Regions from separate parts of the Homo sapiens genome. Here regions 1, 2 and 3 are each linked to region 4. Evidence: fine-mapped expression QTL. A gene starts in region 4. Each other region holds a variant in brackets. All regions are shown on one strand. Distances are between the middles of the regions. Region 1 overlaps LOC105379301 (a long non-coding RNA gene). Region 2 has its middle 140 kb from the start of SH2D4A. Region 3 has its middle 110 kb from the start of NAT2. Region 4 holds the start of PSD3 (pleckstrin and Sec7 domain containing 3).

What was found.
Region 1: its variant is fine-mapped to the expression of PSD3 in sun-exposed skin (GTEx, PIP above 0.99). The same link has a PIP of 0.9 or more in unexposed skin.
Region 2: its variant is fine-mapped to the expression of PSD3 in fibroblasts (GTEx, PIP above 0.99).
Region 3: its variant is fine-mapped to the expression of PSD3 in cerebellar hemisphere (GTEx, PIP above 0.99). The same link has a PIP of 0.9 or more in cerebellum.

Annotation. Positions count from the first base shown.
Region 1 is chr8:19,113,041-19,121,146 of GRCh38, reverse strand. All of the region lies in intron 2 of LOC105379301 (a long non-coding RNA gene), which reads right to left. Among named protein-coding and RNA genes, the nearest start is that of PSD3, 100 kb to the right of the region's middle. The variant G/A (reference allele first, on the strand shown) is at 4,849.
Region 2 is chr8:19,166,583-19,174,688 of GRCh38, reverse strand. No RefSeq gene overlaps it. Among named protein-coding and RNA genes, the nearest start is that of SH2D4A, 140 kb to the left of the region's middle. The variant G/T (reference allele first, on the strand shown) is at 3,415.
Region 3 is chr8:18,494,205-18,502,310 of GRCh38, reverse strand. No RefSeq gene overlaps it. Among named protein-coding and RNA genes, the nearest start is that of NAT2, 110 kb to the right of the region's middle. The variant C/G (reference allele first, on the strand shown) is at 3,302.
Region 4 is chr8:19,009,019-19,017,124 of GRCh38, reverse strand. It overlaps PSD3 (pleckstrin and Sec7 domain containing 3), which reads left to right and starts at 3,422. Exons shown (of 16, transcript NM_015310.4): 1 at 3,422-3,562. The coding sequence starts at 3,542. LOC124901898 (a long non-coding RNA gene) reads right to left here and starts at 3,122. Exons shown (of 2, transcript XR_007060840.1): 1 at 2,929-3,122. RefSeq lists silencers at 3,279-3,368, 3,439-3,538.

The sequences.
Region 1 (8,106 bases), 100 kb before region 4:
AGTGACCTGTTGAGGAGTATATACGTTGTCATCATTTCTACACCAGAATGGCATGGAGCAGGGGTAAGCATTCTCTCAAGGCTGGCTATTTCTTACCCTAGGCTATAACCCAGGTCTTCTCTCCTTCAGATCCTCAAATTTTAAAAAAGATTTCACTGGGCACTCCCAATTTCTTCTGGAGGATGGAGATGGGGGCAGAGCACATGGTCCATACACTACGTCTATTTTTTTTTTTTTTAGACAGAGTCTGCCTCTGTCACCAGGCTGGAGTGCAGTGGCACGATCTGTGCTCAGTGTAACCTCCACCTCCCGGGTTCCAGCAATTCTCCTGCCTCAGCCTCCTGAGTAGCTGGGATTACAGGCGTGCACCACTACGCCCGGCTAATTTTGTATTTTTAGTAGAGACGGGGTTTCTCCATGTCGGTCAGGCTGATATCGAACTCCTGTCCTCAGGTGATCCACCCGCCTCAGCCTCCCAAGGTGCTGGGATTACAGGCGTGAGCCACCATGCCCAGCCACTACTTCTAATTGTATTCTTCCTCTTCCTTGTCTCTCTCTCCTCCAATCTTAGAACTATTTAACAAGTTAGAGGGGTGGGAAGGGCCCTGTTCTACATAGTCACCATCAGTTTGGGCCAGATCGTCACTGAAATAAAACTTAAAGCTTGCTTTATTTCTAGCAACTACTTTTTCTGGGGAAAGTGCTGCTCTGTGTCACATAGTCCAAGTCAGGTTAGAGTAGGAGACAGACAGAACAAGCTGGTTAAAACCAAAAATATAATTTCATGAATTTGTTTCTTACTGCAGGTCCTGTCTTCTCTATTCTGTACATGAATCTTTTCCGTTTTTTTAAATAGCAATCCAGTTTATGTATCAGTACACTGGCAGAATTTTATTTTTGAGAACCTTCCCATCATTCTTGAAATACTCTCTCCTTTAGTTTCTGAGAGGGAAGTTCTAAGGTAAAGATTCTCTAGGAATGAGATAATAATTGCAGGGAGGTAAAATTTGGTTTTGTAAAATCACTTATGCTTTTATAAAAATCTTAACCTGGACAATTATCTGGGATTAGTGCAGAGCTATTTATTTTCTAATTCCTTTCCTCACCAGAATTATTTAATGTCCATGTTTTGAAACTACTTTTAAATTGAAGTATAACATGAATACAGTAAGGCATCAAATCTTACAAAAGTTTCACATAATTCTATGAATTGGGCAATTCTTACAGGTTAATGAATTTTAAACAACTATGCAACTGTATACCCTAGAATTTAATATATATATATACATATGTATGTATATATATGTGTGTGTATATATATGTGTGTGTGTGTATATATATATGTGTGTGTGTATATATATGTGTGTGTATGTATATATATATATATATAGCCAGGCACAGTGGTGTGCACCTATAGTCTCAGCTACTTGGGAGGCTGAGCTGGGAGGATCATTTGAGCCCAGGAGTTCCAGGTCAGCCTGGACAACATAGTGAGACCCAATCTCTTAAAAAAATCTTTTGTTTTCTTTCCAGAATAGTAGAAATAAAACACGTCACAGAAAACATAGTTATGTTGCTTAATCTCTTTAGATGAGCATTTTTTAACTTTTTGGTGTAAGGACCCCTTTACACTCTAAAAACAAAAATTATTGAGAATCCCTAAGAGATTCTGGCTTTGTTTTTATGAGAGCTAGCAAGCTAGCTAGATATATGAGATATGTATGTATATTAGATGTAAATATGTTATAAATTAAGTCTGAGAATGTTGTGAAACATGAGAATACACAAGTACACATTCCATGAGCTGATAAAACAATGATGTCATGGAAAATTCTACTGCACACTTGTGATTAAAAACAGAAATAATGACAAGTGATGCTGTGTAGTTGAAATGCTCATACATTCTTCCTGGGATTTTAAAATGGTAGTGCTGTGGAAAACAGTTTGACATTTGCTCAAAAAGTGAAACTAGAGTTACCATGTGACCCAGCAATCCCACTTCTAGGTACATAGATGAGAGAATTGAAAATATATGTTCACACAGAAACTTGTACACAAATGTTCATAGCAGCATTAGTTCAAAATAGCCAAAAAAAAAAAAAAAAGAAACAATTCAAATGCCTATCAACTTGGGAATAGATAAATAAAATATGGTGTATGTATAAATGAAATACTATCCAGCCATAAATGGAATATTATTCATGTAGGAATGAAGTACTGATTCATGCTGCAACATAGATAAACTTTGAAAACGTTACCTAAGTGGAACAAAAGCAAGACACAAAAGACCAAGTATTGTATGATTCCTTTTATATGAAATATCCAGAATATGCAATCCACGTAGACAGAAAGTAAACTAGAGGCTTCCAGGGGATGGGGGAAGCAGGGAATGGAAAATGACTGCTCGCAGGTATAGAGGTTCTTTTCAGAATGGTGGAAATGTTCTGGAATCATATAGTGGTGATGATTGTACAACATTGCAAATTTACTAAAAACAACTAACCATACTAAAAACCACTTTAAAATGGTGAATTTCATGTTATATGAATTATATCCCAATTAAACATTACCACATAAAAAGGTATCCTCCAGAAATTATTATTTGGAGCTTTAGAGACAACTTTGTGATCCAGAAAAATAAATGGATAAAGGAGCCTGTACAGCTGATTTTTGTTGAGGAGAAATGCGCAGAGGATTCCTGTTGCCAGACTGAGTGGGCCTCCCAGATAAGCAGAGTCGAACTGAGTTCTTGGGTCACTGCGCTCCCCGGGCGACGGCTGACATGCTCCATGTTTGCAATTGCGATTGTTCAAGCTGAATGAACGCGATGTTGTTGTGGCAAAAGAAAACCCACAAGAAAGTATAGATAGGCCAGTCTAAGGGTGCCTGAGTTAGGGCAGAACTTTTCTCATATGTTCTTGTAAAGCTCAGGCACAAAGAAAACTAGCTAATAGAAAGAAGGAAACAGGCCGGGTGCGGTGGCTCACGCCTGTAATCCCAGCACTTTGGGAGGCTGAGGCAGGAGGACTGCTTAAGGCCAAGAGCTTGAGACCAGCCTGGCAACATGGCGAAACCCCCATCTCTACTAAAAATACAAAAATTAGCCAGGCGTGGTGGCCCACGTCTGTAATCCCAGCTACTCGGGAGGCTGAAACAAGAGAATCACTTGAACCCGGGAAGGCGGAGTTTACAGTGAGCCGAGATCACGCCACTGCACTCCAGCCTGGACAACAGAGTGAGACTGCGTCTCAAAAAAAAAAAAAAAAAAAAAAAAAAAAAAAAACAGAAAAGAAGAGAAAAAAAGAAAGAAACAAACAAAACCAAAACAACACTATTACAATAACAAAAAAAAAAGCACGTGGGTCTCATACATCATCAACAAATTATTTATGCATGGAGTGCCTTTTCTCTGGTCATTCATGGAGGTTTAGGATAGATGACCCAATTAAACCAGCCCTCATTTGAATTCACTCCCAAAAGAAGAACGTAATGGTAAGAGAATCAAGTTTAACGGCAAAAAGATGACATTTTCAAAAACATATGAGCCAATTAAAAGCTCATTATCCAGAAACCCATCTGATGGTGTCAGATGGTTTAAGTGTTAGGAGAAAATGTCTGATGAACCTTTCTTGAAGCTGCTCCCAGATCTACTGCTGGAGGAAGAACCCCGATTGAGACAGGGAAGCAGTGGCAAACTCAGGCTGCAGGTGGAAGCTCAAAGGGGAAAATGAGACAGACCTGTCACAGAGTCAAGGAACTTTCAGAAATATGGCTCTCCACACACCAAGCAATGGGATACAGTCATTGGCCATTGAAAGTGGAGCGGTAGCTTCAGGTGTCACCTTCTTTGGGGAACGTGGCATTTTCAAGGGACCCTGAGCATGAGGGAACCTCATCTGGATTTTCAAGTCATGACTCAGATGGTCCCATAGGGGCAGAAGGAATGAGGGTGTCCCAAACAGACTGGCATGTAGAAATTCTATGTGGTATGCAAGATTTGGGAAGTACATTACGGCTTGTGTATCATGTAAGCTGGCTATACTAGAGTGCTGAACTTATACTAGAGCAATAGTACTCAGAAGAAAATAGTAATTTGAAAGACATTTGAATATAATTACTGCATATTGTAAACTATATATAGAGTTACATATTTCACTCACTCTCAGGAGAAAAGAAATGGGATTTTTCTAAGAGACAAGAAATTATACATCCTTTTCATTAGTTTTCTCATGTGCTAGCTTTATGCAAAATGAAATTTAGGTACAAAGGGCAGTAAGCAGTAACAAATATGAAACACCCATCTGGAGTGGTATGTGAATAGTTACTAAGGAAAGGTTTCCAAGAAAGGAACCATAAATGCTTTCACCAAAGCCAGATAATTAGAAGTGTTAAAGAAACAGTGTAGGTTTTTTTTTTAAGTCCTAGTTATGGTAAATTACATCTAATTACATTTTTAATTGCCAATTTCTACCCAGATCCTTGAAATCTTTCAGGAAAATGAATTTAAACCATAATTCTTAGTAGGAAATTTGAGGATAAATAAACTTTTTAATACATTAGATTGTTGCACAGTTTCTCAAAATAAGTTATAATCTTAACATGAACACATATTTACACGCACTACTCTTTTCATAATTCATGGAATTCATTTTCTCTTTACAGTTATACTAAAAAGATTCTACATATCTTCTTTCTGTGTTAGTAGATTTAGAGAAGGTAAATCTAATTACTATAATTGTATATAGACTTGCAAAGACTGGCCCACATCATAGAGAGACAGCATGCATTATCCCAGAATATCTGAGACATATCTGGCAACCATTATAGCACCCACTGAGTTGTCTTCGA[G/A]TTAGGGCATGATTGTGTGAATACGCAAATAAAGCACAGAAGGGAAAAAGTAACCTTTGGGAAAGTGGCTCAGAGCAGCGTAAGTGAGTAGATGAAGGGCCCAGTTCCTTGCCTTGCCTCCCAAGCTGTGGCAGCCCACAGCAAGATTCCAACCCTGTATCTGAAACTCATGGGGTCAAGTGTATTTCAAACTCCCAGGGGTTTTGGACTTCACGAAGATGATTTAAGAGACTCTGCCCTCTTCTTCCTGCAGAGAGGGAAATCCCTTCCTAGGCTGTCGGTGGAAAATCCTCTCCAGCGTCTTCTTTGTCCTCTGTCGCCCCCACAACCCTTCACAATAGAGCATGGGCAAGAGACAGCAGCGCCAAACAGGAGGCCGCTACCTCTATGTGGTGCCCCCAACAGTGTGCCCTGTACGAGGTGGATTTGACGTTTAGTCAAATTAATAGATTCTTGTTAGGAACACACCCAAGAGAAGGAGTGTAATTACTGTGGGATTTGGTGAATCATGGTGAATATGTCAGTAACCAAGTAATTACCCTGGGGAATCTTTTCCTCTATCATCCACCTTTACCTAAATTATATGTTAGCATCTAAGTAGTCCTCCGTAATCTGATGATTTAAAATTGTTTAATTTCCTAGTGTATTTAAATGGGCGAGGTATCCCTGTCTTTTCTCCTTCTCTATTCTCTTTCTCATCCCACTGAACTTTGTGCCCCCAAATCAAGTTAAATGAACTTAAAAGTATGAACAAGGCCGGGCACAGTGGCTCACGCCTGTAAACCCAGCACTTTGGGAGGCCAAGGCGGGTGGATCACCTGAGGTCAGAAGTTCAAGATCAGCCTGGGCAACATGGTGAAACCCTGTCTATACTAAAATGCAAAAATTAGCCGGGCATGGTGGTGCATGCCTGTAATTCCAGCTACTTAGGAGGCTGAGGCAGGAGAATTGCTTGAGCCTGGGAGGCGGAAGTTGCAGTGAGCCGAGATAGCGCCACTACTCTCCTGCCTGCGTGACAGATATAGACTCCATCTCTTAAAAAAAAAGTATGAACAAATTCTGAAAAGCTTTATTTTGGGTACTGAAATAACTAACACCTTGTCTTAAGCATAGTAAACGTAGTCAAAATGAAGTAAGACCATCTTTTTGGCTATGGACCAATTTTTTAGGTAGGACTGGCAGAAATGACAGTTTGGGAACTGAATATGCCATTTTCTTTGTCCCCATACCCATGAAATGAAGGAAAATGATGACTGGTACTTAGTTGGAAGTACTAAGGGTGTATCAGAAAGGATTTACTGGGCGGGTGCAGTGGCTCATGCCTGTAATTCCAACACTTTGGGAGGCCAGGCAGGAAGATCGCTTGAAGGCAGGAGTTTGAGACCAGCCTGCACAACAGAGGGAGATCCTGTCTCTATATTAAAAAAAAAAAAAAAAAAAGAGAGAGGAAAAGAAAAGAAAAAGAAAGGTTTTACTAAGGCTGTGTGGACCAGTGCCATTCTATAGAAATATAATGTGAGTCATATTTATCATTTAAAAGTTTTTAACAGCTACATTTACAAAAGTAAAAAGAAACAAGTAAAATTAATTTTAATAATATATTTTAAACCAATATATCCAAAACATTAAGATCCCAAAATATAATTAATGTAAAAATTAATATTTTACATATTCATTTTTTATACAAAGACTTCGAAATCTAATGTGTATTTTACACTTAGAGATAATCTCAATTTGTACTAGGCCCATTCCATGTGCTCAATAGCTACGTATAGCTATTAGCTACCTTATTGGAAGGTTCATGAAATGTGAATGTTTAGAAAGCAGAGCTGGTGCCCAAATCCTCAGCAATCTGTGATTCTTCTGGAAAAAGAATGGCCTCTACTTTGAAATTTCTTTCATATTTACTCTACTATATATTATAAACTGAAATAAAGACCATCCGTTAGTAAAAATAATTTTATTTTTAGTACTTCCTGTAAATCAGTAAAATACACTAGATTTGTGCTGAGAATTGTACATCATTCCTTAGTTAAATAGGAGTCACAATTTGAATCCAAAATTTGAGGAAACTAAAAACAGACACATAGACCAATAGAACACAATAGAGAACCAAGAAACAAATCCACACACCTACAATGAACTCAGTTTTGACAGATGCCAAGAACATGCACTGGGGAAAAGACAGTCTGTTCAATAAATGATGCTGGGAAAGCTGGATATCCATGTGCAAAAGAATGAAACTAGACCCCTAGGTCTCACCATATACAAAAATCAAATCAAAATGGATTAAAGATGTAAATCTAAGACCTCAAACTATGAAACTACTACAACAAACCATCAGGAAACATCTCCAGGTCATTGGTCTGGACAAAGACTTCTTGAGCAATACTCCACAAGCACAAGGAACCAAGGCAAGTGGGATCACATCAAGTATCCAGCAAAGGATACAGTTAACAAAGTGAAGAGACAACCCACAGAATGGGAGAAAATGTTTGCAAACTACCCATCTGACAAGGAATTAATAACCAGAATACATACAGAGCTCAAACAACGCTATAGGAAAAAATCTAATAATTCAATTTACAAATGGGCAAAAGATAATGAATAGACATTTCTCAAAATTAGAAATACAAATGGCAAACAGGCATATGAAATGGTGCTCAACATCACTGAGATCATCAGAGAAATGCAAATCAAAACTACAGTGAGATATCATCTCATCCCAGTTAAAATGGCTTACTATAAAAGACAGGCAATAAGAAATGCTGACAAGAATGTGGAAAAAAGGGAACCTTGTACACTGTAAGTGGGAATGTAAATTAGTACAGCCACTATGGAGAGCAGTTTGGAGTTTCCTCAAAAAACTAAAAATTGAGCTTCCATATGGTCCAGCAACCCCACTGCTGGGTATATACCCAAAAGAAAGGAAATCGGTATATAGAAGAGATGTCTGCACTCCTATATTTGTTGCAACACTGTTAACAATAGCTAAGATTTGGAAGCAACCTAAGTGACCATCGACAGATGAATGGATAAAGAAAACGTGGTATGTATACACAATGGAGTACTACTCAGCCATGAAAAAGAATAGGATCCAGTCATTTGCAACAACATGGATGGAACTGGAGATCATTATGTTAAGTGAAATAAGTCAGGCACAGAAAGACAAACATTGTATGTTCTCACTTATTTGTGGGATCTAAAAATCAAATCAATTGAACTCATGGACATAGAGAGTAGTGGGATGGTTACCAG
Region 2 (8,106 bases), 160 kb before region 4:
TCTGTGAGACTATGCCAAGCGGAGAACCGCAGCCAGGGCCATCTCAGCAGACAGAACAGCATGTACCACACCTATCACTACCATTTAAAGGACTGGGATATTCGAAAACCAGTGTTTGGGAAATAGCTTAGGAGTCAATGTGGCTGCAATTTAGGATATAGGCTAGACGCAGAACACCAGATTAATGGTGGGACCAGATTACCTGCAAGGGTAAGGCATTTAGGTTTCATCATTTAGATAATGGCTAGCTCTTGATGATATTTCAACAAGAAAATAATATGATCACATCCATATTTTAGGGAGATTTAAAAATCAGAGTATAGCACCATCTAAGGGCCTCTCCAATTGCATTTGTCAAAATATGCTAGAGTGTACCTCAATAATAAACAAACCGCACACCTCAAAAGCTCAACAGAAGTCTCTTTCTCTCCCTCACACACTCCATGTCCCATGTGGGTCAGTCTTTGCTCCACATGGACCCTTGACAGGCTGTCTTGTAGCTGCACCATCTGGATGGAGTACAGGCCTCAAGTCAGGAAGGGAAGAAAGCTTTTGTCACATGGTCTTACCTAACCACAGAAGAGCTGGGATGGTTGACTAGCGAATGGAATATTTGCTAAGCTATAACCATCTCTGCCACACCAATAGAAAAAGAAATTCAACTATCAAGATAGGGTAGTTTAAGAGATACTGGCAGAGTGGGGGTGGGGTTGGATACAACACTTAGAACTTGTGGAGCTCATCTTGGGCCAAAAAGCCATGGAAAGGCTGGGCGCAGTGGCTCACACCTGTAATCCCAGCACTTTGGGAGACTGAGGCGGGCGGATCACGAGGTCAGGAGATCAAGACCAGCCTGGCTAACGTGGTGAAACCTCATCTCTACTAAAAAAAAAATACGAAAAATTAGCTGCGCGTGGTGGCATGGTCCTGTACTCTCAGCTACTCGGCAGGCTGAGACAGGAGAATCACTTGAAGCCGGGAAGCAGAGGTTGCAGTGAGCCAAGATCGTGCCACATCACTTGAGCCTGGGCGATAGAGCAAGTCTCCATCTCAAAAAAAAAACAAAAGCCATGGAGAAAGTGGTGATGCCTATAAAATATGTCCTTCTGTGTCCCATCCATTGCTTTCAGCGCTGCCCATAGATAATTGTCAGTGGCCCTCTACGTAGGCAGTTGTGGGCAATTAAGAAGTGTTAAGTTTAGCCTAAAGCTGCCTCTTTACATATTTTAAGTTTGGCCTAAAGTGTCTCTGTACATAGTGAATTGTAACCTAACTGGATGTGTAAAGAGCCTGTACCCTCCTCTTGTGCCAGTCACAGTTTCGGCCAGAGGTAGCCAACTGTTCAAACTGTGTTCCAATAAGGCAAATGGCAAGCTGTAGCCAATCCGCCTGTTTCTGTACCTCACTTCCTTTTTCCTTCCATCGCTTTCCTTTTCCTGTCCATGAATTTTCTGGGACCATGTGGCTGTGATGAAGCCTCTCTGAACCTGTTCTTGTTTGGGGGCTGCCCGATTTGTGAATCATTCTTTGCTCAATTAACCTGTGTTAAATTTAATTTGTCTAAGGTTTTTCTTTTAACAGAAGTAACTTGATGGAGATTCTAGGTCTGGTGGGGTCTGGGAGGGCCTGTGGAGATGCAAGGCCACGGCCAGATATGGACTTTTCAGGAATGTGGATCCTGCTGTACGTACTTCCCCTTTTACCTCTCTGGCCTCTCTGTGAGTGAAAATTAACTCAGTGGCCTCTGGTTGAAAGATAAAGACTTCTTGCAGAACATATGGGGAGAGGAGACAAAAAAGAGACAGAGAAAGAATGGCATAAAGAGAGAAGAGAGACACAGAACAAACTACTTTATGCCAGGGTAAAGGCATAAAACATGACAATATGTTAATAGTGGTTGTTTAGAGGCAGTGGGATTATAGATTCCCTCCCCTCCCCGTCCCCTCCCCCTCTCCCCTCCCGTCCCTTCTCCCCCCTCCCCGTCCCCTCCCCATCCCCGTTCCCTCCCCTTCCCCTCCCCCTCCCCTCCCTCTCCTCTCCCCTTCCCCTCCCCCTCCCCTTTCCTCCCCTTCCCTTCCTTTCCCGGAGCAGGAGGCTCCCACGTTGGCCAAGGCTGGAGTGCAATGGCCCAATTACGGGTCACTGCAACCTCTGCCTCCCAGGTTCAAGTGATTCTCCTGCCTCAGCCTCCTGAGTAGTTGGGACTACAAGCAATCTCCATCATGCCCAGATAATTTTTCCTTTTTGTATTTTTGGTAGGGACAGAGTTTCAACATGTAGCCCAGGCTGGTCTCAAACTCCTGACCTCAATTGATCCGCCTGCCTCGGTCTCCCAAAGTGCTGGGATTACAGGTGTGAGCCGCTGTGCCCGGCCTTTTTCTGTTATTTTACTGCCTTTTTTCTGTATTCTCCCATTTTATACTTAAGCAGTAATCATTTTCATTTAAAGGCAAATTGTTTTATTTGAAACAAATCAGAGGTTCCTCTATTTATTCTGACAGTGGCTCTGTAGGGTTGACACCTAGCATTTTGATTATTTTTTGCACTACACAAATGAAGAACAGAAAAGACCAGCAAAATATTCCAATTTCTCAGTGAAACTAACACTAGACTCAATCAAGGATCTGAGGCTAGAGTTTGGACAATTGCCCAGGCAGGCTGGGGAGGCGGGGCTCCAGGGAATGGGGGTGGAACCTGGCCTTGGGAGTGGAGCTTGGTTTTGGGGGTGGAGCCTGGCCTTGGGAGAATGGAACCTGGCCTTGGGAGTGGAGCTTGGTTTTGGGGGTGGAGCCTGGCCTTGGGAGACTGGAGCCTGGCCTAGGAAGTGGAGCTTGGCCTTGGGGGTGGAGCTTGGTTTTGGGGGTGGAGTCTGGCTTTGGGGAAATGGAGCCTGGCCTAGGAAGTGGAGCTTGGCCTTGGGGATGGAGCTTGGTGGCTGGGCATAGGCCACCGTCACTGCCACCAGGATGGAGGCAAATCAGGATGCAGCAGACCCAGGATCAGTGCTGCTCACCCAGACTTACATTTCTTCCTATATGTTCAGGGCTGAGATTTACATCTGACTCCTCAACTCTCTGGAGAATATTCTATTTCATCTGCCCATGACTTAATAATGAAAAGAATTATATTTGATTGTTAAGAATCTCTTACTGATTTAAATACTTTTAAAAAACACTTCGTAAAGACGAAATGGGTGTTAATTTTGTATTTAGTGCTGTGACTCTAGTCAGCAGTGAGCAGCAATATTATCTGAACAGACATAAAGATGAACACTTAAGGGACCAAAAGTTCGGGGCTTGCAAAATAATTTGCAATGACTGCGAATTATCTCCCTGTCTAAAACAACTCAGGATGGTAACTTGTGGTTGTGCAGTGGGCATTCTTTCCCTCTGCATCATTGCAGAGGTTATGCAA[G/T]CGTTCTGATTTTCCAGCTGTTTCTAATCAACTTAAATGCTAATTTAAAAACATGCTCTGAACTGAACTCACACCATCGCCTGACATCATTGTTCCTGCTTTAAGCAGCCCAGGGGAGCAGAATCTTCTTAGTGTCCGTTTACAGTGCATACTTTTGTTCCTCACAGAGAGGGTAACTACTAAATACTGTTGATTAAGCCAGTCTGCTCTCTTCTCTCTTCAGCCCCCTTTTCTTTGTAAGTCTCGTTAGAGAGACTGTGTGCCAAGCCAGGGCATGTAGTCCAGTGTGGTGTTTGACATGGGCCAAATATGATAACTAAGGCTTCAGATGACATCACCAGGTTCTGAATATTAGCCAGAGCCCAGAGATTGTTCAAACTACTTACAAACTGTTCAAACTACCTATAAACTGTTCAAACTACCTGCAGACTTCCTACAAACTGTACTATCTTCTCACTTCTGACCATAAATGTGAACACCCCAAGCAAAATGCTAGCAAAACTTATTCTACAAGATAGTAAAGGACTGTAACAATCAAGTCCCATGTGAGGGAGTATAGAATAAGTGTAACTGGTAAGAGCCCAGCCTCTAAAAACAGGAAAACTCGTGTCCAATTTTAACTCCCACTTACCGCACAATTAACTTCACCTCTCTAAATACTAATTTTTCCATCTGCATAATGGAGAGACTATGTCTCTCATTGGTTTATTGAGTGCCTGGCTCAAAATTGGAGAGGAAACTATAGGAAGAAAAATGGCTCACAGTCAGTGGAGAGCAGAACCAGGATTCAACCTCACCTTCATTGGACTTAGAACCTGAGTTCTTAACCTCTAAGCTGTAATGGAACCATGAGGCAGACATAAAAAACCATAGGTTTGCTTTTCTGCTCAGAAAATAATAATATAAGAAACCAGAAGGAAACCATGAAGGAAAGTATATAGACTTGGCCACATAATTTTTTTTAACTTTTCATATAAAAAGCAGTTTAAATAAGTTTCAGAAGTAAATAACACACCACAATGAGCAAAATATTCACAACATATTGTCAACCTAAATCGCAGAGCCTCTCTAAAAGAGGAGATGTTACTTAAGAATAGAGCTTTGCAATGGGAATAGGCATGTCATAGTGAACTATGTGCATTTTCAGGGAGGTAAAGAAAGACAAAGGTTTCCAAAGAGAAAAATGAGGAGGATTACATAATTGTTTTGAAATCATTATCCTTGGCTACAAAGATCAATAACAAGGGTGACGCCAGTCTGAGTTTGGAGAGGCCAGTTGCTGGGCAGATGTTCTTGCAGGAGTATTTTTTTGTGTGTAAGATTGTGATGGCCTTTGTGCAAGGTTGTGGTTTTTGTAGTCTTTTTTGTTATCACACACTGAAGCATGAGAACCCACTTTCCAGGGCCTCCCCTGGCTCTGTTTCTCAGGATTTTGTTTTCTTTTTCTTTTTTTTTTTTTTTTTTTTTTTTGAGATGGGGTTTTCCTCTTGTTGCCCAGGCTGAAATGCATTGGTGCGGTCTCAGCTCACTGCAACCTCCGCCTCCCAGGTTCAAGTGATTCTCCTGCCTCAGCCTTCAAAGTAGCTAGGATTACAGGTGTGCCCCACTACACCTGGCTAATTTTGTATTTTTAGTAGAGATGGGATTTCGCCATGTTGGCCAGGCTGGTCTCGAACTCCTGACCTCAGGTGATCCACCCGCCTTGGCCTCCCGAAGTGCTGAGATTACAGACGTGCGCCACCATGCCCGGCCTTTCTCAGGATTTTCTTAACATTCGTCACTCCATTTTAATTCCAATAACTTTCACGGTATATCGGTTAATATTTTAATACAAAAGCATCTTTAAAGGTGTTTTAACATATGAATATTCAATGAACAAAGGCAAAATTGAAAATTCAGAAAATAAGAAACACAAATGTGAAGCCAATAAATGTGAGGAAAATATTCAAAGAAAGAAAAACTATCCGGAATCATTAGATCGAGAGAATGACCATGCTGTACAGGTCCTTTCTTGGCCCCCGTTTTCCTCTGACTCCCATGTCTTCCTGAGCTGGGCATGCGAGGCCTGTCAGAACTCAGCCTCTGCTGACCTGCCAGCTTCCGTTCCTCCTCTTCTCCTCCATACCGTGTGGTCCAGCCCGCAGGACATGGTAGGCTCCTCACATTCCCAGATTTCACTTTCCTGGTGTTGTCTATCTGTGAGCCGCTCTGCTGAGGCATGAATTCATATTACAGACGTATGAGGGGTATGAGCTGTGAGTCACCCAGCTAGTGAGTGAGCCTCGCTGGCTTCAAGCCTTCTCAATGGACTGAGCCTTATTGTTTCATATTCATCGTTAGGGCATTCTCATAAAGTAATAAAAGGTGTTTCTTTTTACAAAATGATCATGAAGTGGAAGTTAAGTCAAAGCATGGAAGTGTTAGGAACTTTTGGTTCTCAGCCAGAACAAAGAAATCTTGGGTATCAAATGTGCTACGCTGCAGCAGCCATAGTGGTATTCACGGATAGAATATTCTAGCAGCCCTGCAGACGAATCCCTTTGCACGTTAGGAGTCTACTGCCTTGCTCTTCCCTGCATGTGTGTGCCTTGAGGCTTCAGTGCCTTTGCTCCTGTTTCTCACCCTTTTGCTTCCCTTCCCCACCTCTGAGGCCAAACCCCCAACAGCGCTTCCTCTGCAAATGGCAGAGTGGGTCTTCTCATCTTTGTATTGCCTCCATGCAATGTGTAGCACGGAGGTTAAGGGCATGAACTTGAGAGCCAGGCTACCTAGGTTCAATCCCACCTCGGTTATTTATCAGCTATGTGATCTGGAGCCTGGTTACGTAACCTCTCTGTGTCTCAGTTTCCTCATCTGCTAAACTGTGATAATAATAGCACCTGTCATAGGGATGTTGTAAGCCTTAAATAAATTAATAGCTATAACCTGCTGAGGACAGCGTCTGACATATAGGAAGCAGTGTTGTTATTCTACTACAAACCTTTCCGTGCTTCATTATGTTACCGGAAAAGGTCTCAGTCCAGACCCCAAGAGAGGGTTCTTGGATCTCGTGCAAGAAGGAATTCAGGGCAAGTCCATAGGGTAAAGTGAAAGGAAAGTTTATTAAGAAAGTAAAGGAATAAAAGAATGGCTACTCCATAGACAGAGCAGCCCTGAGGGCTGCTAATTGCCCATTTTTATGGTTATTTCTTGATTATATGCTAAACAAGGGGTGGATTAGCACCTCCCCTTTTCAGACCGTATGGGGTAACTTCCTGACATTTCCATGGCATTTGTAAACTGTCGTGGTGCTGATGGTAGTGTAGCAGTGAGGACAACCAGAGGTCACTCTTATTACCATCTTGGTTTTGGCGGGTTTTGGCCAGCCTCTTTACTGCAACCTGTTTTATCAGCAAGGTCTTTATGACCTGTATCTTGTGCCAACCTCCCATCTCATCCTGTGACTTAGAATGCCTTAACCGTCTGGGAATGCAGCCCTGTAGGTCTCAGCCTTATTTTACACAGCCCCTATTCAAGATGGAGTTGCTCTGGTGCACACTCCTCTGATAATTGTTAACAGTTTTTATATACAGCAAGACCTTTTTTTTTTTCTAAGTACTACCATAACTCAGTCATGTAGGAAGAGTGTAGTCCCTTTAACTTGTTTGTAGTTGTTCTGGGCTTCCTCATGAATTGACAACTACCACCTCCATCCCTCTTTCTCTGAGAGATAAAGTAACCAAACTTACTTTGGCTTTGCAAACTGAGTTTGTTCCAATAATTTAAGCATCTCATTGACAACATCCAGTCTTTGGGAAGTTTGTTTACTTGCATGCCCCCAATTCTACCCTCTGGGGTTTACAGAGACAAGGAGGGAGGATGGCCTACCTCTGATGGAGGATCACAGGGTCCTTCGATCCATGCCACACTCTCTCACCCTCTGTTTCCCCAGCTGAGAGAGGATGTTCCTGCATTCTACTGGGGCCTACCACCACTGACTCACACTTAGCTCTTTCTCAACTCAGGAATCATCTTCTTGCTTATTTAGTCCCCCAAGGTGTAGACTCCTCCATGACGCTGTATGTTCTCCATTCTTCCCCCTATTTCAGGTGGTCTACTCCCAGCACTCCTGCAATGATGCTGTCCCTAACTTAGCATCCCTGCTGTATGACTTGGGTGTGGGAAGCCTAGGAGGGCAGATTGGAACCTTCCTCTGCCCGAACTGGCTGCTCTGCCCTTTGCTTTATCCTGGGATACCAAGGTTGTCCCAGGACCCCCTGCCAAACTCCTAAGTCCTCCATCCTCCAATATTTCTCAAGTCCATCACACATACAACCATCTCTGCCAACCGTCTTATTCCCACAATCCCTTGGAAGAGAAAGGGGCTTTCCTCCTCTTCTCCCTGATTGGCTGTACTGTGAAGCTCTGTGGTCTGGACAGCCAAGCCTAGCCCGTTCTTTCCTTCACATCATATCTCAATAGTGCCTGGCTCTCAAGCTGATTTTGTAATGAAAAGTTCTATTTTGAATGTTAGAATTTGACTGCTAATGTTTTCTTGTTTTTGGCATTCATTTCTTTGGCAACAATTTAAATCCCCTCAAGGCAGATGAAGAAAGAAGGTTAAATACAGTAAACTCCCCAATGTACCTACACACAAAATACAAAATATTGGCCCTGTTGTTTGAGTTTATCTCCCACTTAGCCTTTGCATTC
Region 3 (8,106 bases), 510 kb after region 4:
GAGAAATGACTCCATGCAGTCCTCTCAATCACTCCATGTAGTAGGTGCTATTATCATAAGTTCCTGTTGTGCAGATCTTCATGGCAGTAATTGTTTTTCCAATGAGGCGACCATTGCTCAAAACTATGATGTCCCATCCTCTCCTTCTGAGGATGGATAACCAAACTCAGCGATCTTCTTTTCAATAGAAACTTGAAGTGCTGAGATTGTTTTTCTTGGGTAGGCTAAAATAGAGCCACAAAAGGTCTTTCTTTTCCACCTCCATCCTCAGTTTCCAAAAAGATTGTTCTGGAGAGTGAGACTTAGCTGGTTGTTTAATTTATTTTCTTCATTGTCTTTTGTTTTTTGAGACAGGCTCTTGATCTGTCACCCAGGCTGGAGTGCAGTGGTGCAATCACAGCCCACAGTGCCTTGACCTCCCAGGCTCAGGAAATCTTCCCACCTCAGTCTTCAGAGTAGCTGGGACTACAGGGGTCCCAGCACCACTGCACTCAGCTAATTAAATCTTTTTTTGAGAAAAAAATTTTGAGGGGTCTCACTGCATTGCCCAGACTGGTCTCAATCTCCTGGACTCAAGTGATCCTCCGACCTTGGCCTCCCAAAGTGCTGGGATTACAGGTGTGAGCCACTGCACCTGGCAGGGTGTTTAATTTCTGTATGTCCACGGGCAAGCATCTGCTTTCTCTTTACTTGGTAATTACTTCTTGTCTAGAAGTAGAGGAGCTGTATCTAGCCCCCATCTGATGTTCTATTCGGCTGTTCTACTTTAAATTTCCTTCCCCTCTTTTCTTGACCGGCCTTTGTTCTTTTCACCAATCAAAGCTGAGCCCTTTATTGCCTAGAAAACCCCATCAACCACCCCTGCCCCTGGACTACAGCAACTTACAATTGGCATGAAACAATTTCGTTGGCAATGACCTTCTGTCCTAAATACTCTTTGCTTCCTGGGTGTTAGTCTTTTTGTACAGCCTACAACACAGTTATAAACTCTTTGAGGGCTGGCGCGACTCACTCAACCATTTACCTATCAGATCCCGGACGAGGTGATCAATATTTTGTTACTGATTATTTCAGTTGTGTTCTCAATCATATACATTAACGTTTTTCGTGGTTTTAATGCTTGCACCTTGTGGTGTGGTCATTTTTGTGTGTGCTGCTGCTGACTTTTTTCCCCAAGTAAAATCTTTTTCTTTGGGTATTGGGGAAAGTGGTGCAACATTTGGAGGAAGGGCCTCTACAAAAGTAGTTAGATGTTATCTGTATTTTCCTTTTTATTCTTGGCACGATCCTAATCCCCCCACATTTTTTTCTGGACATCTCCTTCCACGCTGATGGTGAGAATTCCTTAAGGCAGAACTTAATAGCTGCGTTGCCGATCTTCGGCTGTCAAGGTGTGGGTTCCTGGGAATAGCACATTCACTCCTATGGAGTCAGTTCTCAAATTTGTCAAAAATTCATGGCTATACTGAAAATTTAAACACTCTTCCCTGGCTCTCTAGAACGTTAATCAAAGATGCTAATATTTAACTAATGTGCTAGGTGCAGGGTTGTTCAACATCAGGATAAGGTGGTTGTGAGCAGTGAGTTTGCCAACATTCAGGAAAGGAGGAGAAAGAAAGGCAAAGTCTAGATCATTCCCAAGTTCAGCATCAGCCCTTGAACAACTGAGAGTTAACTGCCTTCGCTCTGTGTTTTCCCCTTAGTTTCAGTAGTTTTTGTCATTTTTCAAAGGCATGACCCCCTGGTTGCGCCCACAGTGATTGAGAGCACGTCTATCTCCCTTACAAGAAAGAGGTCATGGTGCCAGGGCCTCGTGTCACCCCCAGCTTCCACTCCCCCACTTCCAGGCTGGTTTCATTTCTCTTCTCTTTGCCCTTTGGCTTTTCTTTTCTTCAGAAATTTCAATTTTCCTTGCACCGAACGTATTAAAATTTAACAGTCACAGAATCTCGGTGTGTGACACGTGATGGCTTTCCCGATAACTTCATTTTCCTCTGTCATTGAAGAGGCCATTTTCAAAGTCACCCTGGACCGTGAACAGTTCTCACTTAATGCTTATTTGATTGTGTTTGTACACTGAAATTTTTGTCCTTTTGTCTCCTTGAGTCTGCTTTCTTTGGCCTACTACTAATAATATTATAATATGGGAAATAATAGTAATATAGGACATTTTAAATTCTCTCCTCTAAGAAGAGGCCAATACTGGAGAGTGAATACTTGATAAATCAAACTCCCCCTGTCCCCATCCCATACCACCCCATCTCTCTCAATTCCTCACTAAGTGGCTTCCAAGGATGGAGAATGAAGATGAGGAGGCCACATGTCTGGCTTCTGCCTTGCTGAGTGGGCGGTGGCAGTTGGAGGTGATCTGAGGAACTGTGTGGGAGAGGGGGAAGAAATAATGGGATAGATTTTGGTGGAAGGGTCTTCAGGAAATGAGGAGAGATATTGAAAGAAAAGTTGTGTGAGATTTTGCTATCCGGTGTGTGATTTCCTGATTTCCACCCCACCCCTGCCAAATCTCTTGTTTGTTTATTTATATGTTTTTGAGATGGAGTCTTGCTCTGTAGCCCAGGCTGGAGTGTGGTAGTGCAACGTCGGCTCACTGCATCCTCCGCCTCCCAGGTTCAAGCAATTCTCCTGCCTCAGCCTCCCAAGTAGCTGGGATTACAGGTACCCGCCACCATGCCTGGACAATTTTTGTATTTTTAGTGGAGATGGGGTTTCACCATGTTGGCCAGGCTGGTCTTCAACTCCTGACCTCAGGTGAACTGCTCACCTTGGCCTCCCAAAGTGCTGGGATTGCAGGTGTGAGCCACCATACTCAACCAAATCTCTTGTTTAGTTTCAGGATTAACGTGTGGCAGAGTGGGGCACCTATTCTACAAAAATGGTTTAGTGCCAGGTGTGACTTCAAGGTGAGCACAGACCATGAGTGGAAGTGAACTAAGCCCTTCCCCAGCCCCTCTGCTCCAGTTAGTTTAAAACTGCCTCCCTCAACGTGTGACCAGAGAACATAAAGTGCTCTGGGACTCTGGGATGTAGGAGTTAGTCTAAGATGAGAAAACTACCACCATCTCCTCGGGGTCTCATCTACACAGGGAGCCTGTGCACTCTCCGGTCCCCTCAAGCCCAAGTGTGCTGTGAAGTTTGACAGGTGTCATCTCTGGGGTTTCTAAAAGGCTCCCACTAAAGGATGCTTTGTGAAAGTCTGGTTTTCCTTATCAGACACGAATCACCTAAGTCTCTCCTTGTACCCAGATGGCTAAATTTGGTTTATATGATCTCACTGTGACCTTCT[C/G]TTGAACAGCTCTGTGCGTGCTGCCAAAATGAAAATGAACAATGTCAGTGCCATGATGTCCAGTTGAGCTGTGACCTGGATTCTGGTCTCGCATACACAGAAGCAACTGAAAGCTGAGAATGAGGGGCCGCCGATGGCTGGGTGTGTGGGGGCATTGTATTACTTGAGCCCATCCCTTGAAAAGCTTAGGAGTCCTCCACCTCCACTGGGAACTCATCAACTCCTGGCAAGAAGAATGTCCCTGGGCACAGGGGACAGGGATCAGCTGTCCGAGGTGAGAGTCCTCCCTGGTGAGCCCACACCTCCACGTGGGGCACTGCAGGCTGTGAAGAAAGGTGAGCAAGATGACAGTGTCGCTGCTGCTCCAGAAAGTAGGATGCAGGGCCCATCTGGCCTCGGCCCCCACACTTCTCACTCCCTGCTCTGTTGGTGCCAAGGCTTGACTTGCCTGTGAAAGGAAATGAGAAAATCACCTTGGAATTAAAAGACCAACAACAAATAGTCAACCTTGGAAGGGTCGGGCTGAAGACTCTTTTCGAAATACAGATGGAGGATAGAACAGAATGCTTGGGACCAGAAGTGTTTTGGACTTTGGACTTTTAGATTTTGGAGTATTGTCATTGTATTTACTGGCTGAGCATCTCAGATCTGAAAATCTGAAATCCAAAATGTTCCAACGTGCATTTCCTTTGAGCATCATGTCCGCCCTGAAAAAGTTTTGTATTTTGGAACATTTTAGATTTTTGGATTTGGGATGCTCAAACCTGTATTAGGTTGAACCATATAAAACTGCCAGCGTTGGTCATTTTTGACCAGCAAAAATGTCAATTTCATATGGTTCAAACTGACGTGATGGTGATTCCCCTTCTAAGTCTTCCCACTGCATTTGGAATAAAGACCATTTTTTTATTTTTATTTTTTTCTTTTGAGACAAGGTCTTGCTCTGTTCCTGGGCTGGATTGCATTGGTGCTATCATAGCTCACTGCAGCCCTGAACTCCTGAGCTCAAGTGATCATCGTCTCAGTCTCTTGAGTAGCCGGGACTACAAGTGCCTGCCATCAGGCCTGGCTAATTTTTTATTTTTTGTAGAGACAGCATCTTACTACATTGTCCAGTCTGCTCTCGAACTCCTGGGCTCAAGTGATCCTCCTGTCTCAGCCTCCCAAAGTGCTGGGATTACAGGTGTGATTGGCCTAAGACCAAATATTCTTGACTGAGCCCACCGGGCTCCCCCAACTCTCTGTCCAGCTTCACGGCTATACTTTTTGATCCTGCTATTCTCCTAACAACCTCTCCACCTCTTAGTCTTGCTCATTCTGTGCCCTTCCTGAAGGATCCCCTCTCTTCCCCAAGTAACTCATCCTTCAGATATGTGTTTGAATGCCAGTTTCATGGGAAGTCTTTTCTGACTAGGCTTTTCTGCTCCTCAATGTGCTCAGAGCACCTTCACTTTCCCTAGGAGGTGTGATCCCGGCTTGTATTGATGGATCAGTGTCCGTGTTGGATGCTTGCCTCTCCCCCAAGGGGCCCTGCAGCCAGACACCTGGAGGTCCCTCCATGTGATTGGTCATGGAAGCTTTGCCTTGTTGATACTTGTTTGAATGCTCTGTATTGAAGTAATAATTTGCATGACCATACGATAAAGGATTTTGCATTCTCTGTTCAATAGGAACTTTACCAACAGCCCTCAGACCATGAGAGTCAGTGAAAGTAATCAGAGGGCTCTGCCTTTTCTCTGCATCCCCTCCAGCGGTGCCACTACCAGTAGGGCCTTACCCCAGCCTGGCTCCCTGTCTAGACTTCTGGTAGCACCTCACTAGACTGAGTCTTGAAGGCAGAAACTGCTTGCCAATCGCTGCACAGGACATGAGGAAGGGCAGTGGTGAGTGCAATGAAAACAGTAGACATTCAACAAATATTTGTTGTTTGCATGAAACCTCAAGACAAGAGAGATAAAAGCTTTATTACCTTTAGGCTGGAAATCCCTTTACCCTAGGAAAACTTCCCCAGCCCCAAGGAGCCATGCAGCTTCCCCCTGCTTATAGCTCAGCAGTCTCCTGCTCGCTCTTTTCTTCCTGGCTCTCAGGGGCTAGCATAAGGCCAGCGTAAAAGCCCTTGTATAAACTTTCTTTCTTCCCTGGAGAAAACCTTTCAGCTAGCTCTAAGGACCACTGGGGTCCTCCCACTTCATTCTTATTTTCAGCCTGCAGTAAACATTTAGTTCACAACTGATTTGCTGTTCTGGGGTGTTCATGACAGTCACATGAACTCCAGTGAGCAACCTGGCTAGTCCAGCTCTTAGCTAAAAACTCATTCCTCTTTCATCTGCACATTTCTGTACCCCACTCAAGTAAGTCTTTGCCTGTACCAGTTATCTAAAATCGCAAAACCAGTAACTTACCAAAATAAGTTTCACAAGTCTATGGGCTGGTGAGGTGTTTATTGCTGGGCTAGGCATGGCTGCTTTCGGCGGGGCTGGTTCAGCAATCTGCTGTCAGCTGCATGATCGAAGGTGGCCTCAGATGGGCTGTGTCGGCCCTGCTCCTCATGGTCCTTCTCCAGCAGGCTGGCCTGGCCTTGTTCATATGGGGACTGCGGGGCTTCAAGAAGAAGTACAGAAGTTGTAGCCTCTTGAGGTCTGGGCTCAGAACTGCCTGGCTCCCTGTTACTTCTTCACATACCACTGACCTACCCAAGTTGCAGGGCCAGTGCAAATTCAAGAGATGGGCCATAGATGCTACCCCTTGATGGTAGGAGAAAGTTACATTGCAGAGGGTGTGATTCAGGGAAGGATAAAAATTGGGCCCTTTTTTGCCTTCCAGCCTCCACGTGTCCCCATATACAGGGAAACTGCCTTAAAAGCCAAGTCATTACAATGATATTAGCCCAGAATATCGTTATTCTGATAATCAGAATTCGCCTGTTCTAGCTGAGGAAACTCCTGAGCTGCTCATAGGCATTTAGATATAAACAAAGCTGGAGCCAAATTTGGGTGGAGTTAACTGGATTCTGTCCCCAAGACTCCTTGTGGATGTAAGGTCAAAATTTAGGTAACAATGCAGTTTTGCAGGTCTGTCTGGCATTGTACCTGTAGTCCCTGAAGTGAGTATTTCTGAAGAGGAAGGAGAAATAAACCAAAGCAAATCAGAATAAGAAAACTCCAATTTCCCCTTTAGAGTGGTAAAATCTTTTTTTTTTTCTTTTTCAGACGGAGTCTCTGTCATGCAGTGGTGTGATCTCGGCTCACTGCAACCTCCACCTCCCGGATTCAAGCGATTCTCTTGCCTCAGCCTCCCGAGTAGCTGGGATTACAGCCACCTGCCACCATGCCTGGCTGGTTTTTGTATTTTCAGTAGAGACAAGGTTTCACCATTTTTGCCAGGCTGGTCTCGAACTCCTGATCTCAGGCGATCTGCCCTCCTCAGTCTCCCAAAGTGCTGGGATTACAGCCGTGAGCCACCATGCCGGGCCTAGAGTGGTAAAATCTTAATAAGATTTATAGACCAGTTAGCAGCTTTTTGCTGATGTGCTGTATTCTGTACTGTACAGTTAGCATTGCAGGAATCAGGATGGTGAAGGGTACACAGGACCCTCTCTGTATTATTTTTGCAACTTCCTATGAGTCTACAATTATTTCAGGATACTGAGTTAAAAATAACTGGAATATGTACATTGTTAGTTTGTACAATTATAATTAAGCACCTGCCACCGCCTGGCGTTTACAAATTGCTAACTGGCACGGTCACCACTTCTTCAGATCAGCATCTATCAGCTCACTCCCATGTTGTTACTTGGTCTCCCAGGGAAAAAAAACACTAAGAGAGGAGGAAAAGAAACAACAGGCACATTCTCTTTTGTTACGTTATTTCTCATAATAAACCTTTTCACTTTATCTATATCTATCTATCTATCTATCTATATTATATGTATGTATATATATATCTGTATTTAATTCTTTTAAATGAAGTTATAGATTACTGGATTGTTACTTGATAAGTTATGTATGGAAAATATCACCAACTACAATGAACATCATTTGTTTAATCATGTAAATGCTGTAAAAGTTTAAACTTATCTATTTATTTTTACTTGTTTTCCCATTGAATTTCATGATTCGGTTTCTTTTTTCTTCCTTATCTGAATCTGAAACCCAAAACCTTTGAGGTTAGTATTCCAGAATCAGCAGTCAGGGCTAACTATCCTTTGGGCTGACGTATGGCTAAGCGAGGATTGGCTGGGAGACCTGGGAGAGGGCTGGCTCCCCTCTCTGCTCTGCCGCCATAGCTGGTTTCTGTCTGATGCCCAGTTTGAGGACTAGGGGATGCCTGGGTCTTGCATGCATGCTTTTTTGTCTAACCCAGGACTCAGCACTTCATGGGGAATGCCTGCCAGCCTCAATCCTCATCCTTTGAGATAAGGCAGAATTTCCCAAACTAACATTTAGAAGAACCCTCTCTAGGAGGTTAATAGATATTATATAGCGTATCCGGGCATGGTGGCTCACGCCTGTAATCCCAGCACTGTGGGAGGCCGAGGTAGGCACTTGAGGCCAGGAGTTTGAGACCAGCCTGGCCAACATAGTGAAACCCTGTCTCTACTAAAATTACAAAAAATTACCCAGGTGTGGTGGCAGGCACCTGTAATCCTAGCTACTCAGGAGACTGAGGCAGGAGAATCACTTGAACCTGGGAGGCAGAGGTTGCAGTGAGCTGAGACTGTGCCACTGCAATCCAGCCTGGGAGATAGAGTGAGACTCCGTTTCAAAAAAGGAAAAAAAAATGATATAGGATAAGAAACGTTCCAT
Region 4 (8,106 bases):
GCTGTGATTGCACCACTGTACTCCAGCCTGGTCAATGGAGTGAGATACTGTCTCAAAAAAAAAAAAAAAAAAAAGTATGTAGCCAAAATACTTGAGGAAAAAGTATTGCTATGGCTTGAATGTCCCTGCCAACATTCATGTTGAAATTTAATTGCCATTGTAATAGGACTAAGAGGTGGGGCCTTTAAGAGGTGATTGGGTCATAAGGGCTCTGCTCTCATGAATGCTGTTATTAAGAGAGTGAGTCAGTTATCTAGAGAATGGGCTTCTGACAAAAGGATAAGTTTGGACCCCATTTGCTTCCCGTCTCTTGTGCTTGCTTGCTATGTGATGCTTTCCACCATGGAACCACCCTCACCATGTGCTGTTGCTGTGCTCTTGGACTTCCAGCCTCCAGAACTGTGAGAGATTCATTTCTTTTCTTTATTAATTACCTAGTCTGTGGTATTCTCTTATAGCAGCAGAAAACAGGTGAAGACAAATATTACTGAAGTGTTTTAGGAAGTTTATTACTACAAAATATTATGTAGGTGGTAGATAAAACTATTGTGTGATTTTTCTGGATTTGGTAATGTTTGTGGGATTTGTCAACTCTTAGAAATTTGTATTTGAGATTTTTGTCATTCTAAATAAACGTTCATGTTGTACTAAAAAATAAATATTCAATAATCTGGGCTTTTCAGTGACCTTCAGAAATAGGAAGGATTAACTGTATGCATGAATAATACATGATGGAATTTCATCTTCCTTTTCTTCTTTTGACCTGCAGTATATAATGTCTTGCCTACTATATAGTCTCTCCACACCACATACATTAGGGCTCATGGGAAGAGGTGGGGGAGGAATATGTTATTGGATAAATATACACTAGCCCATGCCTAGGTGGTCTGCGTGCCTCCTTTCTTTTTTTACCAAGGCGGGTGCTTGTGTATTCTGACACTGAACTTGAGCACTGGGGGCTATGGTAGCAGAAATGGGGATTCTTACTTCATTTTTAATATTTCCAAAAGCCTAACAAAATATTTACACACAAAATACATGCTGGCAAAAATGAAATGTCAATGTTTATTTGATTTGCTTTAGGCTTCATTGACTTAGTAGTGGTAACACTGGCTAATTTATGCTGATCAGAACCTCTAACCATTTTATCTTTGATTATTTATAACTGGACGAATGAATGATTATTTAATAGATGTGATCAGCTTTATAAGTACAATCTTAAAATATTTTGGCTTCAGGGATAAAACCAATTAAAAATTTCCTTTGCGATGGAAATTGGAAACACATTTCTGTGGCTTCACTTATGAAATGCTCCTCTATTGAACATTCACTATAGGCCAGGAGCTTTCCTTAATTTATCATGCTAATAACACTTCTGTATGGCATTATTAACCCAATTTTATAAATGAGGAAACAGAGGCTCAGATTATAGATGTCTATGCCCAAGTCCCTTAACTAGAAATATCAAGTAAATCTATGTCCACCCTGCCTCCTATATGATTACTTTTTTTTGTTTGTTTATGAGTTGGTTAATTTCCCAGGTAAAGGCCAGTAGGCCAGTGGTCAAGCCTCAGGGTAGCAACTACATTTTGTACTGGGTCTTACTTTTGATGCTTTGCCAACAAAACCGTCAAGGAAGGCAGGAGTTGACTGGGAATAGGCACACTGGGACTGTCTCTGTAGGGTATGTACGCAAGGGTAAAGGGAGATCACAAACGAGAAATATGCCTGTATTCGTCCATTTTCACACTGCTGATAAAGACACACCGGAGACTGGGCAGTTTACAAATGAAAGAGGTTTATTGGACTTGCAGTTCCACATGGTTGGGAGGCCTCACAATCATGGCGTAAAGCAAGGAGGAGCATGTCACATCTTAAGCGGATGGCAGTAGGCCAAGAGAGAGCTTGTGCAACAAGCGCTCCCATTTTTAAAATCTTCAGATCTCGTGAGACTCATTCACTATGACGAGAACAGCCCAGGAAAGACCCGCCCCCATAATTCAATCACCTCCCACAAGGTTCCTCCCACACACCTGGGAACTGCGGGACTTACAATTCAAGATGAGATTTGGGTGGGGATACAGCCAAACCATATCAATGCCCAAGTGACTGGGGTGCTTCCAAACCTACACAGCTGCTCACACTGCTGCTCTGGCAGGGGGAGCATGAGCTGCGGACGTTTTTCTGAAGTTGGAGTGAATTTGTATAAAGGCATACACTCCCTCATGCTGGCTCCTCTGGTGGGTGTCCAAGGCTTCCTTTGATAGATGCAGATGGGGCAGCCAAGGCAAAGTAGGTGACTTATGTGGCCTTGGTGCATCTCAGCTATGCTCACCGGGCAGCCCATGCTGACATGGTGGGCGAGATCGTGGGGCCACCAGGGAACCTGACTCCACTCCCATCTCTAAGCTTGGCCAAGTCAGTCACTTCTCGTTATTGGGGCGTCTTCTACCTGTCACTTGAAAAAGACTGTTCTTTGGAACAATAAGGCGGTAACACATACACAGGACCACCCTGTAGCCGGCCACACAGGTTCCGCCTCCAGGTGCTTGGATCTACTTAACGGACCTCCCAGGGGGAAAGATTTGCGGTCTCTCCGTCCCTCTACCAGGGGAGGGCGCCGTTCCAGCCCTTGCCTCTGCGGCACAGATCAAAGGACGGAGGAAAAAAGGTGCGGGTCCGGGGCACTAATGTTCGAAAATGCAGTTTTAAGTGACCTCTCCCCGCGCACGCACTGTCGGTGGGGGCAGTCCCGAGGCCAGGCTGCGGGGCGCCTGGGGGGACTCGCCTCAGGGGGAAATGGCCCTTTCAGGGCTCGACGGGTCCCCGGGACTAAACGCTCCGGCCGCGGATCGGTGCCGGGGGAGCCCGGTCAGAGAGGCCGGGACCCCGAGGGACGCCTAGGTGCGTGTCCCGAAGCCCGCGTACCTCCAGCCCCGGCGAGACGGCGCCCAACTCGCGGCTCCAGTCACACGGCCCTTCCTGAGAGGAAACACCAGGGAAAGCACCTCTCACTTTTCTCAGGGTGGGAAAACTGTGAAGGAAGAAGACAAAGCAACAGGCAGGTTTTCGCTCGCGGGCTGGAGGCTGGGCCCAGGGCGGGCGCGCGGCTGCGGGAGGCAGCGGACGGTCCGGGCCGCTCGAGGGCTGCACTGCGAGGGTCTGGATCGCCTCCAGCCTCCCCCGGAGGCCCCGCCCCTGCCCTGGAGACCCCGCCCCCGCCTCGGAGGCCCAGCCACCTCCCCCCTCCCCGAGGCGTCGGCCCCGCCTCTCCGCCCTCCGCCCTCCGCCCCCGGGGCCCGCCACCGCCGGCCCGCCTGCGCCGCCTTCGCTTTGACGTTACTGGGGGCCGGGCGGGCGGCTGCCGCGGGCTCGCAGCCTCGCCAGCCTCCGCCAGGGTGCGCGCGGGCCGCCGCCTCTCGGCAGTCCCGGGAGCTCAACAAAGAGCACGCGGCGCTGGCCGCCGGCACTCGCGCCCTGAGGCTGCGGCCCCGGAGCGCCCGGCGGCGGTTTCGGCGCGCGGCCGGGCTGGCGATGGAAGATGGAAGGAAGGAGCGCAGCGGTGAGCTCCGGGGCCGGGGCGCGGGCGCGGGGTGCGCACGCGGCGCCGCTGTTCGACGTGGGGTTTGTGTTGCTTTGTCGCCGCTCTGTCCCCCAGGATCCCGGGGCCACCTGGGTTTGTGCTGTCTGGATAGGTGCAGGGTGCGATTTTTCTCTTCGCGCTTGCTTGCTTTGTGTTTTTTAGGAGCCCAGCAGGGTCAACTTTGTGGTGTTAAGGTTTAGGGGTTTTAGTTCATACCTCGGCTTTGAAAACCTCAGACTTTGGAGAAAAGCTATCAAAAGAAGGCAACATGAAAGAGGACCTCGTATGCCGATCTTTCTTTGCCCGGTCAGCTTGTATTTAGGGACTATCACGTTTCTGTCAGAAAGAAAGAAAAAAAGACTAAACTAAACAAACTTGAATTGAGCGAGCAAACGGACAAGGGAAGATTATTCGGTGCAATTCCCAGGAGCTTTTACAGATGTTTAAGTCATTCTGTTTTACATGCATTTAACTTTATCCGCCGTTTTCAGCTTTCCGTTCTGGCGAATGATGTTCTGAATTTTTTTTTTAAACACATTAACACCGATTAGAGGACGTGGGTTTAGAATGTTGTTGGTGACCTAAATAATAAATGTTTCGTTTTGCCATTCCCCTCGATGTCAAAGGATGTTAAACGCCCACTAGGCAGAGGATGGAATGGGCACCACGATTTCATTTTCTAGACACTGGTTCTCCCGATAGCGGGATCCAGGATTTCCGCTCCAGAATAACTCTTGAGTGGGTCCAGGTGTTGGTGTAGGGAAGACGGAGATCTGGAAAATTACTGTAAGTGGGATTCTGGCAACAAATGCCTCAATGCGTTCGTTGTAATTGAGTATGTGCAAAGGATTTTGCAAAGCCCGGTAGCTAGGTAAGTAGGATAGGATTTCTGCTTTCAAGAAGCGTGCTTGAGAGCTTGCCTGGGAGAGACTTATGCGTAGGCTACCATGGAGGATCTCAGAGGAAGCTTCTGGCCTCCGGGCTTGGAAGTTCTCAGAGAGGAGCTGGCAGTTATGCTGGACCTTGAAAGGGAGGGGTTGATTGGATTTTTGTGAGATGTGAGGGAAAGGATGTCCCCTGCTAAAGGAAAGGGAATTCACTTTCTACCCTTTTCCAAGAAATGATCCTTTCTTTTCTGAGAGTATTTACAAACCAAGAGGTTTTCTTTTCAAAAAGTCATGAAATTCCTCTTCAGCAGTTAAAAGTGCAACATGCTCAACATCACCAGTTAAGCAAATGCAAAATAAATTAGCACCTTTTCAACCAGTTTTTAGTGGCTGGCTGGATGTCCTTCCACAACCTTTTTATATCCATCCACAAGTGATTTGTCTTGTAAGATATTTCATTAATAGAAGCTTTTTGTACTAAAAGGAGTAGAGTGGTATCAAGAAAGGGACTTGGATCTGTAGGTAGGACACCTAGCTTAGAGGCTTTGCCACTGACTGGGTGAGTTTTTGCCACCGTCTTGGGCAAATTATTTAACTTCTGTCGCTACAGTTTCCTGGTAGGGTGAGGGGATTAGGTAGATGCTCTTTCAGAGCCTTCTAGCCCTACCATTTGATATTTCCATGCCTAGACACGTTTTATGCATTACTTATTCAGTGATGTACTCTTAATTTCACATTCTAAATATCTGTTTGTGTGTTCTGTGAATGGATCAGCACTCTTATCCTGACCATTGAATGTGGGAGAGTGATTAGAGCTACAAAGCTAAAATAACCTTATTACGGCCAAATTCCGTGGTTGAATGTTGTTGTTGTTTTTTTTTTTTTAAATGCGAGCATAAGAAGCTTGATTTGCCAATCTTAATGTGTGTTTTCTTTAAAGAAAGTTTTGTTGACACTGTTCATTTGTGACCAAAGAATAACATATACCTTATTATGTACATTGCACTTAAGCAATTCAATTCTGCTTTTAATCAGATACTAGTAATTTAAAAAATTGAGTAACCTTGGAAATTCTTACAGGCTAGTAAATCTTGGGAATTTGGAAATAAAAAAATAAAGTAAGATGGAAGTAGCTCATTGAAAAAGAAAAATTTAAAGGTACTTTCAGTCAATGGCTCTGCCCTCTTTCTAAAACCTTGATATTTACATATTTGTTTGCCAGCCCTGATGGAAAATTATTTGAGTGGAATTTAGCGTGGCATTACATTGAAAAAACATGTCCATGGTACTACTACTTTTGGAGGTGATTTTTTTTCTTTTATAGAAATTCAGGTGTGATTTGTCATGCATTATTCATAAACTAAGACACCAGTGTGGTGATAGGTTAATTGCAGTCTTGGTTAAGAGATGCTGAGGCAAAACCATGTGAATATTAAAATGTGTATCTGCTTTGGCTTAAAGACTGGTTTGTTTGAGGTTTACATGGGGTAATGTCATTTGGACATTATGAAAAGAGTGTCTTTGGGTTTGGGTTGGATTGGGAGGTGAGTTATGGATAGTGATCGTTTCCAATTTTTGGAAAGGAATTCAGACATGATTGAAGTTGGGTCAGACTGTAAAAAATAATCTGGTGACCAAAGTCTGTGGAGTTTAGTATGTGAATCAGGCTTATAGGAGGCTGGGGATCTAGTGTGACCTTGAATTACTGCTGTTGTGATTCTCACCATTTAGGGGTTCTTCCCGGACCGTCTGGGCCAAGCACAGAGGTCCTTGGCTTCCCTTTGCTAAGAGTGGAAGTGTTTTCACTTTGAATATTGCCTCTCAGTTCTTCCTAGTTCTTTTACAGTTAAACCAGCCTGGCTTTCATTTAGGAGAGTACAGGATCCATGTGAAATTCTCCAGAGCATTTGTTCGGAGTGCCCATATCTTGACAGCTTGTGTTGTTTGTGATATTGTATGCAGACTCAGGGATTTGCTGGAAAGAATTTAAGTGGTGGCATTATTTTTTCAAAGAGTGTTTCTGAGTTACGTTGACCATCTTTCAAGGACATTTTTCACAAGCTCCAAATTAAGTAGTGTTGTAGTGGCTGTTGCAATTTACAATGGAGAAAAAGGATAATTTGCAGCATATAGTTAACAAGTTATTCTTAAATCCAAATTACCAAATGTCCATGCCTCATTTGAAAATAAGGCATAACTCAACATTAATAATGAATCTTTGCGTGTGCTATCTTATTTATATAAAAACAGTGCATGTCCCTGCAGTGCTTGTTTGCTCTACCAAAAGAAAGGTTTTTCACTGCGCCCAGAAGGTCAACAAACTTGGGCCCAGTTGGTGCCTAGTGGGGAGGGACTTTGTTGACACATCAGGGCACAGAGGTGGCAGAGCATTTTCTCTCTTGGTGACACCGGTGGTGTGAGGGATCCGCCCGCTCTTCTCCCCTTCCTGCATGTCAGGCTGCGGCCATGGCAGACCACTCACTCCTTGAGGCTTACTTGAGGACCACTCACTCCTGAGCCATCTGGTTTGAAATTCCCTTTCCTCTGAGTGTACATCAGTGAGATGAATCAGAATAATTTATACATGTTGAAGGATATTTTTAAAAGATTATTATTGGAGTTAGGGATTTAGGATAACTGGGAAAATTAACATTTTGACCTAAGCTGGTGTTCTTTTCTTACATGGTATTTTCACACGGGTCTTCTGAGAAAGCAGCATTTTCTAAGTTTCTTGTTAAGTCCTGATTTTTCTGTTGTTGTTGTTGACACAAGATCTCACTCTGTCACCCAGGCTGGAGTGCAATGGTGCGATCTCAGCTCACTGCAACCCCTGCCTCTCAGACTCAAGCAATTCTCCTGTCTCAGCCTCCCGAGTGGCTGGGACCACAGGTACACGCCACTGCGCCCAGCTTAATTTTTGTATTTTTAGTATAGACGGGGTTTCATCGTGTTGCCCAGGCTGGTCTCAAACTCCTGAGCTCAGGTGATCTGCCTTCCTTGGCCTCCCAAAGTGCTGGAATTACAGGCATGAGCCACCAGGCCCGGCCAAGTCCTAACTTTTGGAAAACGCTTATTTCGAGTGATATTTTCCTGGCATGGGGCGTTTTTACAATCACAGCTAATGTTTATTGAGTTCTTACTTGGGTTGTCTCCCTTATTCCCCATGACAACCCATGAGGTCAGTAGTGTCATTATTTCCATTCTGAAGTCAGGAGAGGTTAAGGAACCTGCTCAAGATCCCACAGTGAGTAAGTGGCAGAGCTGAGACTTTAAACTCAGGTCATCCAATTTTCTTAACCACCATTCTGTTTTTATGTCTCAAAGTTAGCATTGCGTGTTGCAGAAACTGAGCTCTTTGGCTCTAATATTTAGATTATTCGAGTCTTGGAATCTGAATATTGGATGACTAATTCATCACCGACCATTATACATTTGTTGGCTTAATAGTGGGACCAGATTTGTTGTTTGGCTCAAGAGATAGAAATGGTGTAATTAAACAACAACAACAAAACCCCTGGGGTGTCTAAAAGGATCTCTGTAGGACCACATGTAAGGAGTTCCACGTAGTTATGTGTCATTAATTGGAATTCACAATAAAGCAGATTAACAAATTAAAATGGAATGTATTTTAATTTC